Linked DNA regions of Homo sapiens: region 2 is linked to region 1. A link means that fine-mapping ties the variant in region 1 to the expression of a gene that starts in the linked region. Tissue or cell type: whole blood. Region 1 holds a variant in brackets; the other region holds the start of a gene. All regions are shown on one strand. Distances are from middle to middle. Region 1 has its middle 60 kb from the start of SRPK2. Region 2 holds the start of SRPK2 (SRSF protein kinase 2).

Region 1 (5,376 bases):
TTAGGTTCTAAAATATTATCAGAGTGTTTGAAATTTTCCAAGCAATTCAGATAACACCCTACAATTTTCTTTCACCTATAAATAATGAAAAGCTAATCCTCAGTGCAGCCTCTATTTAGATTTTATTTTATTTTTTATTTATTTATTTTTGAGACAGGTTCTCGCTCTGTTGCCCAGGCTGGAGTGCAGTGGTGTGATCTCGGCTCACTGCAACCTCCGCCTCCCGGGTTCAAGCAATTCTTGTGCCTCAGCCTCCCAAGTAGCTAGGATTACAGGCATGAGCCACTGTGCCCAGCCTTCTATTTAGATTTTAAATTCCATGTTCATGGAATATAAATTGAGGTTTGGGAGATGAGAATAAGGATAGAGTCAGAAGTAAAAAAAAATTTGTGAAAACAGCACATGAAGCTAAGAACTCAGGTTGTACAGGATGGCAAGGTGATTAGGCAGGGCTGAGGTTTTGTTTTGGCTTTTATTAATGATAGCTTTATTGAGGTATAATTTACATACCATACAATTCACTCATTTAAGTGTACAAAGGATTTTGGTATATTTGGAGTTGCGCAACCATTATCACAATCATTTTTACTTTTTTTTTTGAGACAGAGTCTCGCTCTGTTGCCCGGGCTGGAGTGGCGTGATCTCAGCTCACCACAACCTCTGCCTCCCAGGTTCAAGTGGCTCTCCTGCCTTAGCCTCCCAAGTAGCTGGGACTACAGGTGCGTGCCACCATGGCCAGCTAATTTTTGTATTTTTAGTAGAGACAGGGGTTTCACCATATTGGCCAGGCTGGTCTTGAACTCCTGACCTCGTGATCTGCCTGCCTCAATGTCCCAAAGCCCTGGGATTACAGGCGTGAGCCACTGTGCCCGGCCCATTTTTTTATAATCTCAAAAAGAAACTTCAAATGCATTAGCGTTGACTTCCTATTATCACCTCAGCCCCAGCCCCTGGCAACTGCTACTTTCAATCTCTGTTGATTGGTCTCTTCTAGTCATTTGATATAAATGAAATTATACAATATGCGGGACTGACTTTCACTTAGCATAATGTTTTCAAGGTTTATCCAGTTTGTGACGTAAAAGTACTTTATTCCTTATTTAGGCAAACAATACTCCATCTATGAATATACCACATTTTATTCATGTTCATCAATTGATAGACGTTTGGGTTGTTTCCACCTTCTGGCTTTTATGAATAATGCTGTTATAAACATTTTGGTATGAGTTTTTGTACAGTCATATGTCTCCATTTCTCTTGAGTATAAAGCTAGGAGTGGAATTTCTGTGTCATATAACTGTGTTTAATCTTTGAAGAACTCTCAGACTGTTTTCCTAAGTAGCTGCACCATGTTACATTCCCACTAGGAGTGTATGACAGTTCTATTTTCTCCACATCCTCGTCAACACTTGTTGTTATCTGTCTTTGTGATTGTAGCCATCCTTTTGGGTATAAAGAGGTTTCTCTGCTGGACGTGGTGGCTCACGCCTGTAATCCCAGCACTTTAGGAGGTCAAGTTGGGCAGATCACTTGAGGTCAGGAGTTTAAGACCAGCCTGGCCAACATGGTGAAACCCCATGTCTACTAAAAATACAAAAATTAGCCAGACATGGTGGCAGGCACCTGTAATCCCATCTACTTGGGAGGCTGAGACAGGAGAACTGCTGAACCTAGGAGGCAGAGGTTGCAGTGAGCCAAGATTGCGTCACTGCACTCCAGCCTGGGCGAGGGAGCAAGACTCCATCTCAAAAGCAAAAATAAAAATAAATTTAAACAAATGAAAATAAAGTGGTTTCTCACTACGGTTTTGATTTGCATTTCCCTGATGACTATGTGGAATATTTTTGTATGCTTATTGGCCATTTGTCTATTCTTTGGAGAAATGTCTATTGAGATCTTTTGCCCATTTGGGGGGTGTTATTTTTCTTTATGTTGTTGAGATCTAGAGTTCTTTGTATGTTCTAGGCACAAATCCTTTACCAGGTATACGATTGGCAAATATTTTCTCCCATTCCATGGGTTGTCTACTTTCTTTTTTTTTTTTTTTTCTTTTGAGACAAGATCTCATTGTTGCTCAGGCTGTCTGTAGTAACACGATCACGGATCACTGAGGCCTCAACCTCCCAGGCTTAAAAGTAGCTGGGACTACAGGCACACACCACTACAGGCTAATTTTTGTATTTTTGGTAGAGATGGGGTTTCACCATGTTGTCCAGGCTGGTCTTGAACTCCTGAGCTCAAGCCATCTGCCTGCCTCGGCCTCCTAGAGTGCTGGGATTACAGGCTTGAGCCACTGAGCCTGGCCTATCTTTACTTTCTTGAGGGTTGGGTTTTTGTTTTGTTTTGTTTTTTGAGACAAAGTCTTGCTCTGTCACCAGGCTGGAGTACAGTGGCGTGATTTTGGCTCACTGCAACCTCCCCCTCCCGGGTTCAAGCGATTCTCCTGCCTCAGCCTCCCGAGTAGCTGAGACCACAGGCACATGCCACCACGCCCACCTAATTTTTGTATTTTTAGTAGAGACGGGATTTCACCATGTTGGCCAGGATGGTCTCGATCTCTTGACCTCGTGATCTGCCTGCCTCGGCCTCCCAAAGTGCTGGGATTACAAGCGTGAGCCACTGCGCCCAGCTGAGGGTTGGGTTTTAAAGGCTGTAGGAGTTATTCTTTATTGAAATTTTGTTTCTAAACTAAGTTCCTATGGTGTCCATAATAACTAGATTGCTGCAGTGTCCACAGTAACCATCTGAAAATGGATTTTCATGACTGGGAGGGCTCAGGGTTAAGCGCAAGAATTCACAACCATAACTTTACAGGATGAAAATAGTCAGGCACTGCCAGGAGCGGTGGCTCACACTTGTAATCCCAGCACTTTGGGAGGCCTAGGCAGACGGATCACTTGAGATCAGGAGTTGAAGACCAGTCTGGCCAACATGGTGAAACCCTGTCTCTACTAAAAATACAAAAATTAGCCGGGCGTGGTGGTGGGCGCCTGTAATCCCAGCTACTTGCTGGGCTGAGGCACGAGAATTTCTTGAATCCGGGAGGCAGAGGTTGCAGTAAGCCAAGATCTCGCCACTGCACTCCAGCCTAGGCGACAGAGTGAGACTCCGTCTCAAAACAAACAAACAACAACAACAA[C/A]AACAAAAAAAACCACTTAGGCGCACTTGGGAACGCTTTTGTTTCAGCTCAGTTCAACTCCACCTGCACCCTCTGAGAGCTGCAAATGGGGAACATAACTCTCCTTAGCCCAGCACCCACGTCTGTTCTCTACTAGCCACATTCATCCTGTTTTCTACATTTCTCTCTTCCTGTTTACAAAATTAATTTTCAACATAGAAGATCTTACTACCTGTTTTGGCCTAGACAAATGTTTCACTACCAAAAAACTTGCTCGTCAAGCTGACACAGAGTCATTCCACTTAACGAGTTAGCCACCTTCCATTAGCTGGAAAGATGATAGAGTCTTAGTTGATCCTTTTTTCTAATAATAATATCTGTCTAATAAAGTGGAGCTAAAGTCTGTTTCTTTCCTGTGCCATCCTGGTTTCTTAGGACCCCTGCACATTAATTAGGAGGAAGTCATGATGTGGATAACTCCAAAAGGTGAAAATCCAAAAGTAAATAAAGCACTGGAGGCTGCTGTGATAAAGAGGAAAGGACGTCAAACCAGGAGTCAAAATGCACAGGCTGAAGTCCTGGCCCTGCCACTGACTGTTGCTCAGAGACCTTCAGAGATCCACATCCCTCCTCCGGACCTCAGCTTTCTCCAGAGAATCCCTCAATGCTAACTGTTGCAGAGTACTCCATGGAGTGCACCCATCACACGTGGACTACACGGAGCTCCAGGGATGGACATCAGATTTGCCTCTAACTCCTCATCACCCTAAACAACATTGTCATCAACTCCATTGCACATGTCTCCTTGTGGACCCATCACAGCACCATCAGTTCCCACTGTTGCAGGCTAAGGAAGAAGCCTGTACACAGTCCCATCTGGGTGGGATTGGCTGTCCACAGAGGTAGGAAGACGAAGTGATGCCAAGTAGGATCATCTTCCCTCCAGAACTTGGGCCCAGTCTTCCAGGAGTTGTCATCTGTGCTTGGAGCAATAACTCATTTTCTCTCCTCTCTTACCATGTGAATTTTTCACTACTTTAAAAAATTGCTGGCTGGGCATGGTGGCTCACGCCTGTAATCCCAGCACTTTGGGAGGCCGAGGCGGGTGGATCACGAGGTCAGGAGATCAAGACCATCCTGGCTAACATGGTGAAACCTCGTCTCTACTAAAAATACAAAAAATTAGCCAGGCGTGGTGGCAGGTGCCTGTGGTCCCAGCTACTTGGGAGGCTGAGGCAGGAGAATGGCGGGAACCTGGGAGGCAGAGCTTGCAGTGAGCTGACATAGCGCCACTGCACTCCAGACTGGGCAACAGAGCGAGACTCAGTCTCAAAAAAAAAAAAAAAAAAAATTGCTGGCCAGGCACGGTGGCTCACGCCTGTAATCCCACCACTTTGGGAGGCCAAAGCAGGTGGATCACCTGAGGTCAGGAATTTGAGACCAGCCTGGCCAACATGGTGAAACCCCGTCTCTACCAAAAATACAAAAATTAGCCAGGCATGGTGGCGGGTGCCTGTAGTCCCAGCTACTTAAGAGGCTGAGGCAGGAGAATTGCTTGAACCTGGGAGGCGGAGGTTGCAATGAGCCGAGATTGTGCCACTACACTCCAGCCTGGGCAACAGAGCGAGACTCCATCTCAGAAAAAAAAAAAAAAAATTGCAATATACATTCATAACCAAGTCCACTTTCAAATAACACCATACTGCTTCATGAGTAGTACAGGTCCTTCATGGATAGTACAGATACTTTATAACAGTATTTGCTGGCCAGGCACGGTGGCCCATGCTTATAATCCCAGCACTTTGGGACGTCAAGGTGAGCAGATCATGTGAGGTCAGGAGTTCAAGACCAGCCTGGCTGACATAGTGAAACCTCGTCTCTACTAAAATACAAAAATTAGCCAGGCACGGTGCCAGGCACCTGTAATCCCTGCTACTCGGGAGGCATCCCAAGTTGGGATTGCACCGTTGTACTCCAGCCTGGATGACAGAGTGAGACTCTGTCTAAAAAACAAAAAACAAAAACAAACAAACAAAAAAACAGTATTTGCAACTCCTTTCTACTGCTTTCTAAAGCAAAGAAACGGCTTTCATTGATTTCACATTTCCATGCTATAATCATGCAATTCCTTCTTGCTATTATTATTTTGAATGGTCATATATTAGATCAGTTAATAAGAAAAGTAAAAGGTTATTTTTATTCCTTCTCTGATTCTCTTCCTTTCTTGATATGCATGAGAGTTTCTGACCTATATCATT
Region 2 (5,376 bases), 60 kb after region 1:
ACTTGTGAGACATCACGTTTGGCCTTATTTTCCATTACAAAAATTTTTAGCCGGGCGCAGTGGCTCATGCCTGTAATCCCAGCACTTTGGGAAGCCAAGGAAGGTGGATCACCTGAGGTTGGGAGTTCGATACCATCCTGACCAACATGGAGAAACCCCAGATCTACTAAAAATACAAAATTAGCCAGGCGTGGTAGCACATGCCTGTAATCCCAGCTACTCGGAGGGTTGAGGCAGGAGAATCACTTGAACCTGGGAGGCAGAGGTTGCGAAGAGCTGAGATCGTGCCATTGCACTCCAGCCTGGGCAACAAGAGCGAAATTCCATCTCAATAAATAAATAAATAAATAAATAAATAAATAAATAAATTTTATAGTCATCCTAGTAGGTGTGAAGTAGTAGCTCATTATAGTTTTGCTTTGTATTTTCCTAACAACTAATGATGTTAATTCTCTTGTCACATGCTAGTTTGGTCATTTGCATGTCTTTGGAGAAATGTCCATTCAAATCCTTTGCTCATTTTTCATACAGACTTCTTAAATACAGAGGGAAAAGGTACCTGTATCTTGGAGAAATAATTAACTGTAACATCACCAGTAATGGAACAAACTGACATCATATTTTGATGCACTAAGATGAATACAACATCATCTATAGTATAGCCAACAAAATTGTTTAACTTGAATCTAATCATAGGGAAACAGACAAATCCAAAACAGGGAACATTCTGCAAAATGGTGGAACTGGATTCTTCAAAAAAGTCAATGTTATAAACAACAAAACAAAACAAAACAAAAAAAGGCTGGGTGCCGAGGCTCAGGCCTGTAATCCTAGCACTTTGGGAGGTTGAGGTGGGTGGATGACCCGAGGTCAGGAGTTCGAGACCAGCCTGGCCAATAGGGTGAAACCCTGTCTCTACTAAAAAAAAAAAAAAAAAAAAAAAAACAAAAACAAAAATTAACTAGATGTGGTGGTGTATGCCTGTAATCCCAGCTACTCGGGAGACTGAGGCAGGAGAATGGCTTGGACCCGGGAGGCTGAGGTTGCAGTGAGCTGAGATTGCGCCACTGCACTCCAGCCTGGGTGATAGAGTGAGACTCCATTTCAAAATAAATAAATAAATAGAAAGAAAACCAAAACACAAAACCAAGAATGATTCTAGACTAAAGGTGTTTAAAAAGACATGACAATTAAATGCAACGGATGATCCTTAATGGTAGACTAATTGGGAAAAAAAGAAAATCAGCGACAAGGGATATTACTGGGATATTTTGCAAAATTGAATATATATGGCCTGTATGTTACAGATGATTACATTGTATTAGTATGAAAGTTTCTTGGAGTGATCATGGAATTCTGATTATGTGGGAGATTATCTTTATTCTTAGTAGATATGTACTGAAATATTTAGGGATAAAGGGTAACAGTGTCTACAAAAACTCAAGTGATTCAGCAAAATAAACCATACACACAGACACATAGATAGCAAATGTGGCAGAATGTTAAAAATTGGTGAATATGGGTTAATTTGGCTGTTAATTGTATTTTCCTTGTAACTTTTCTATAGGGTTTGATATTTTTTTGAATATAAAAAGTTAAGGACTCTTCAAAATCCAAGCAGAGTTTCCCGTTCTGATTTATCATCCTTAGTGTAAGCCACCTTGTCAAAGATACAGTTGTGTGACCAATGAGGGAGTTAATAGTCAGAATGCGTATCTTTCAAAAACTATTGTAATTATTTACATAAATAAGAGAACATTGCAGTTATCTTTTTGTGTCACTATCAACTTGATTCACATCTTTTGTAGGCAGCCTGATAAGGTGGTTTGTCGACGGCCAGGCCTGAATTTCGATCCTGGCTGGTTAAACTTTTTAACCTCGTTGGGACTCAGTTTCCTCATTGTAGGATGCAGAAAATAACTACTTGGTGTGATTGTTGTTTTGAATTGTTATACACCTGGTGTTTACGGAAGCGAGTTTCAATTCATGTGCAAAACCTTTGTCCTACCTTGAATGCTATCTGTATCTTTTCCTTCATTAAACTCATGCAATCCTGGAGGGCACTTAGAGGTGGGAGAGAAAATGACTTCTCCAAGGTCACACCGCTAATCGCGGACCCAGGTTTCCCAGCTTTTGGTCGTGTGCCCTTTCCACGCCTGCCGGAGAGGAGGAAGCGGCGCTCATGGGGTTGCAAGGATGTAGAGGAGCAAAGGGAGAGAAGAGGCCGCGGGAAGAGAGGTGGTGCGAGACCCGCGGAGGCGCCGGCCAAGGACGGGCGCATGGAGCAGCGGGCGGCGCGACCGGCCGGGGTGCGGAGGGGAGAGGCCGCGGCGGGGAGGGAGGGTCCCGCGGGTCCGGTGCCCGGGAGAGGCGGGCGGCCTGGGCCAGCCGCAGGATCGCAGGAGGCGGAGGCCCGGGCCGCGGGCTGGGGTGGGGGAGGCCGAGGGCCAGCGCGGCCATGGGCGGCGGCCACTTCTGCACAGGTGGGTGGGGCGGGGGCGCGGGGCGCTGGGCGCGCGGCGCTGGGGTCCCGACCCCCGGGGCCGGCGGGTGGGGGCGGGGCGGGGGCGGGGCCGGACGGGGGCGGGTCTTGCTGGGTCCCTGCTGGAGCGGCGGCGGCGGCGGCGGCGCAGGCGCGGTTCTCGTCTCCTCCCGGCCGGCGGAGCGAGTGGAGGCTGCAGCCCAGCTCGTCTCGGCGCCCGCGTCGCCGTCGCGAAGCCCCCCGCCCCGCTTCCGCCGCGTCGGAATGAGCTCCCGGAAAGGTGAGTGGCCCGCGGCGCGCCCTCTCCCCGCCACGCGGCCAGCCCGGGCGGGCGGCCCGACCGTTAATGTGTGTCTTCTCTTCCCCAGTGCTGGCCATTCAGGCCCGAAAGCGGAGGCCGAAAAGAGAGAAACATCCGAAAAAGTGAGTCCACGCTGCGCCTGTCCCCGTTCCCCACCCCCGCCCCGTCGGGGGCGCCCGCGGCCGCGCAGGGGAAAGTTGTCCGGGTCCCCGGGCCGGCGGGCGGGCTGGTCCCCCGGGACGCTGGCGCTCGGCTCCTGCCCCCGGCGGGCGGCCCGGGGGGAGGGGCGGCGGCGGGGGAGGGGCGCGCGGGCCGCGGCCGGTTCCCTAGCATCACGGAGCCTCGACCCCGCGACCTCCCGCCCCGGGTCGCCACCGGCCGGCGGGCGGGAGGCCGGCGGAAAGGCGCCGGGCAGGGCGTGCGCACCCGTCCCTTGCCCGCGAGCTGGCCCGGGGGTCGCGGCCCTTTCCGGAAGGGGCCCCGGCGTCTGCCGCTGGGCTCCGGCCCGCCCGCTGCGGGAGTGCAGCGGCTGCGTTGCTCCCACCTGAGCCGCGGGCCGAGGAGGCGGAGGGGCCGAGTGTGCGGGAGGGCGTGTGTCTCGCCTCCCCTTCCTCCCCGGCCCCCGCCTGTCGGCCTTTCTGCTGAGAACCTAAGCTGGTTGTCAAGTGGTTTGCCTCGGGCGTGTTCCTGGCGCGAGTTCAGCCCCGAGACCTGTGCGTTTCGGCTCTCGGGTTTGGATTCGAAACTTTCCGCTCGGGTTGAGCGTGACTTGGGTGCGCTGCGGGCGCCGGGGTCGCGGGCTGCGCAGGGCGGTGGGCGTGTGCGCGGGAGCCGGTCGGAGTGGAAAACGCGCCCGTGGCGGCCACCTCCAGCCTGGCCGCTCACCCGAGCAGGGGGGCCGCTGCCCAAGAACCCTTTCCTGGAGAGCTGCTCCGAGACCGCACAGCGCCGCCGCGTCTTCTCCTTTTCCACTCCTCTCTCCTAATTTTTTTGATTTACCAGCGTTCGACATCGTTATCTCTTCCTCTAGATTAATTGCTTCGCTCTTTTGAGCAAGAATACTCTGTGTGGCATCTTTGGTACTGTGGGGAACGAGAATCCAGCATTATCTTTAATAAAATCCAGAAACATTTTTGGTTGTTTCCTTTGAGGGGTACGTCGCAGCACGCTCACTTTTTTCCCCTTCTCGTTGGCCTTGGTCCTTCAGTTTCACAAAATGTGGATAGTGACTTAAAAATACCTTAAAAAAAAAAAAAAAAGAAAAAACCATTAGAGTAAGGGGAAAGCACTTCCTAAAGAGTTGAAGAACTAATTGGTCGGTAAAAATTGGATATTGAATTCATAAGATGTTAAAATGGACTGGATTTTTGGTAGTTTTGGTTGCTTTTAAAAAAATTAGTGCTAGCTTTCAAGTGAATTACAACCTTAAATTTGAGATTTCCTTTGGTGAACCATGGAAGTTTACCCAGTGGTAAGGAGAACTGTAATGTTTAGGATTCTGAATAAGTACTGTGTTTTAATCACAGCTCTTAATTCAAAGCATTGATTTAATTCCACGTAGTCTGTTATACTCAGAAACATAAAAACAAGTGGAAAAAGTATGACCCCAGTGTCGGAGATGGCTATGTGTGCATGTATATACAAATAGACACGTATATGTGCATGTTACCTTTACGTACATGTGGAAAAACAGTTCTAATTAAGTCAATATGTGTCTTGTATTTGCATATATTAGAGTATGATTTTCCTAATGGTCGAGGGCCTTTTTGGTGGGCCGCAGTTTGGATTTATGTGGTATGTTGATGAAGACTTAGTGAATAGCCACAGTACTCAGCTTTTCCTCTCACAGATTAATCTGCCAGTTTCTCCCACTGTGTATTGTGTATATGTGATAGAATTTGAGGGGGAAAATAACACACCAGCTAATGATGAAACGAACTGGCTCTAGTCTGTAAGGTAACGGGACCAGCCCAATTATATAACTGATTGAGGCATTGCCATTTTTCACTTAACTCTTTGAATCAAGTCATAATTTTATTTAATAATTTTTTTGAGGCAGAGTTTCGCTCTTGTCGCTCAGGCTGGAGTGCAATGGCCCAATCTTGGCTCACTGCAACCTCCGCCTCCCAGGTTCAAGGGATTCTCCTGCCTCAGCCTCCTGAGTAGCTGGGATTACAGGCACCCGCCACCAAGCCTAGCTATTTTTTTTGTATTTTTTAGTAGAGACGGGGTTTCACCATGTTGGCCGGGCTGGTCTACAACTCCTGACTTCAGGTGATTCACCGGCCTCGGCCTCCCACACAGCTGGGATTACAGGTGTGAGCCACCGTGCCCGACCTGAATCAAGATATTATTTAAAAGAACTGTTTGATGTTATTTATTTATTCATGTCTTCAATAGGTATTTACATGTCTGTCTTCGGAGATGGTGTTAGAGGTTGTTTTTTTTTTTTTTTTGAGACCGAGTCTTGCTCTGTTGCCCAGGCTGGAGGGCAGTGGCGCGATCTCGGCTCACTGCAAGCTCCGCCTCCCGAATTCACGCCATTCTCCTGCCTCAGCCTCCTGAGTAGCTGGGACTACAGGCGCCCGCCACC

The links. PIP is the estimated chance that this variant, and not a neighbour inherited with it, causes the effect.
Region 2: SRPK2 starts here. The variant in region 1 is fine-mapped to the expression of SRPK2 in whole blood (INTERVAL, PIP above 0.99).

The regions. Positions count from the first base shown.
Region 1 is chr7:105,446,259-105,451,634 of GRCh38, reverse strand. No RefSeq gene overlaps it. Among named protein-coding and RNA genes, the nearest start is that of SRPK2, 60 kb to the right of the region's middle. RefSeq lists an enhancer at 3,347-3,466. The variant C/A (reference allele first, on the strand shown) is at 3,140.
Region 2 is chr7:105,386,177-105,391,552 of GRCh38, reverse strand. It overlaps SRPK2 (SRSF protein kinase 2), which reads left to right and starts at 2,632. Exons shown (of 16, transcript NM_182692.3): 1 at 2,632-2,762; 2 at 2,851-2,905. The coding sequence starts at 2,747. RefSeq lists silencers at 2,262-2,431, 2,532-2,581, 2,592-2,661, 2,692-2,821, 3,162-3,281 and 1 more.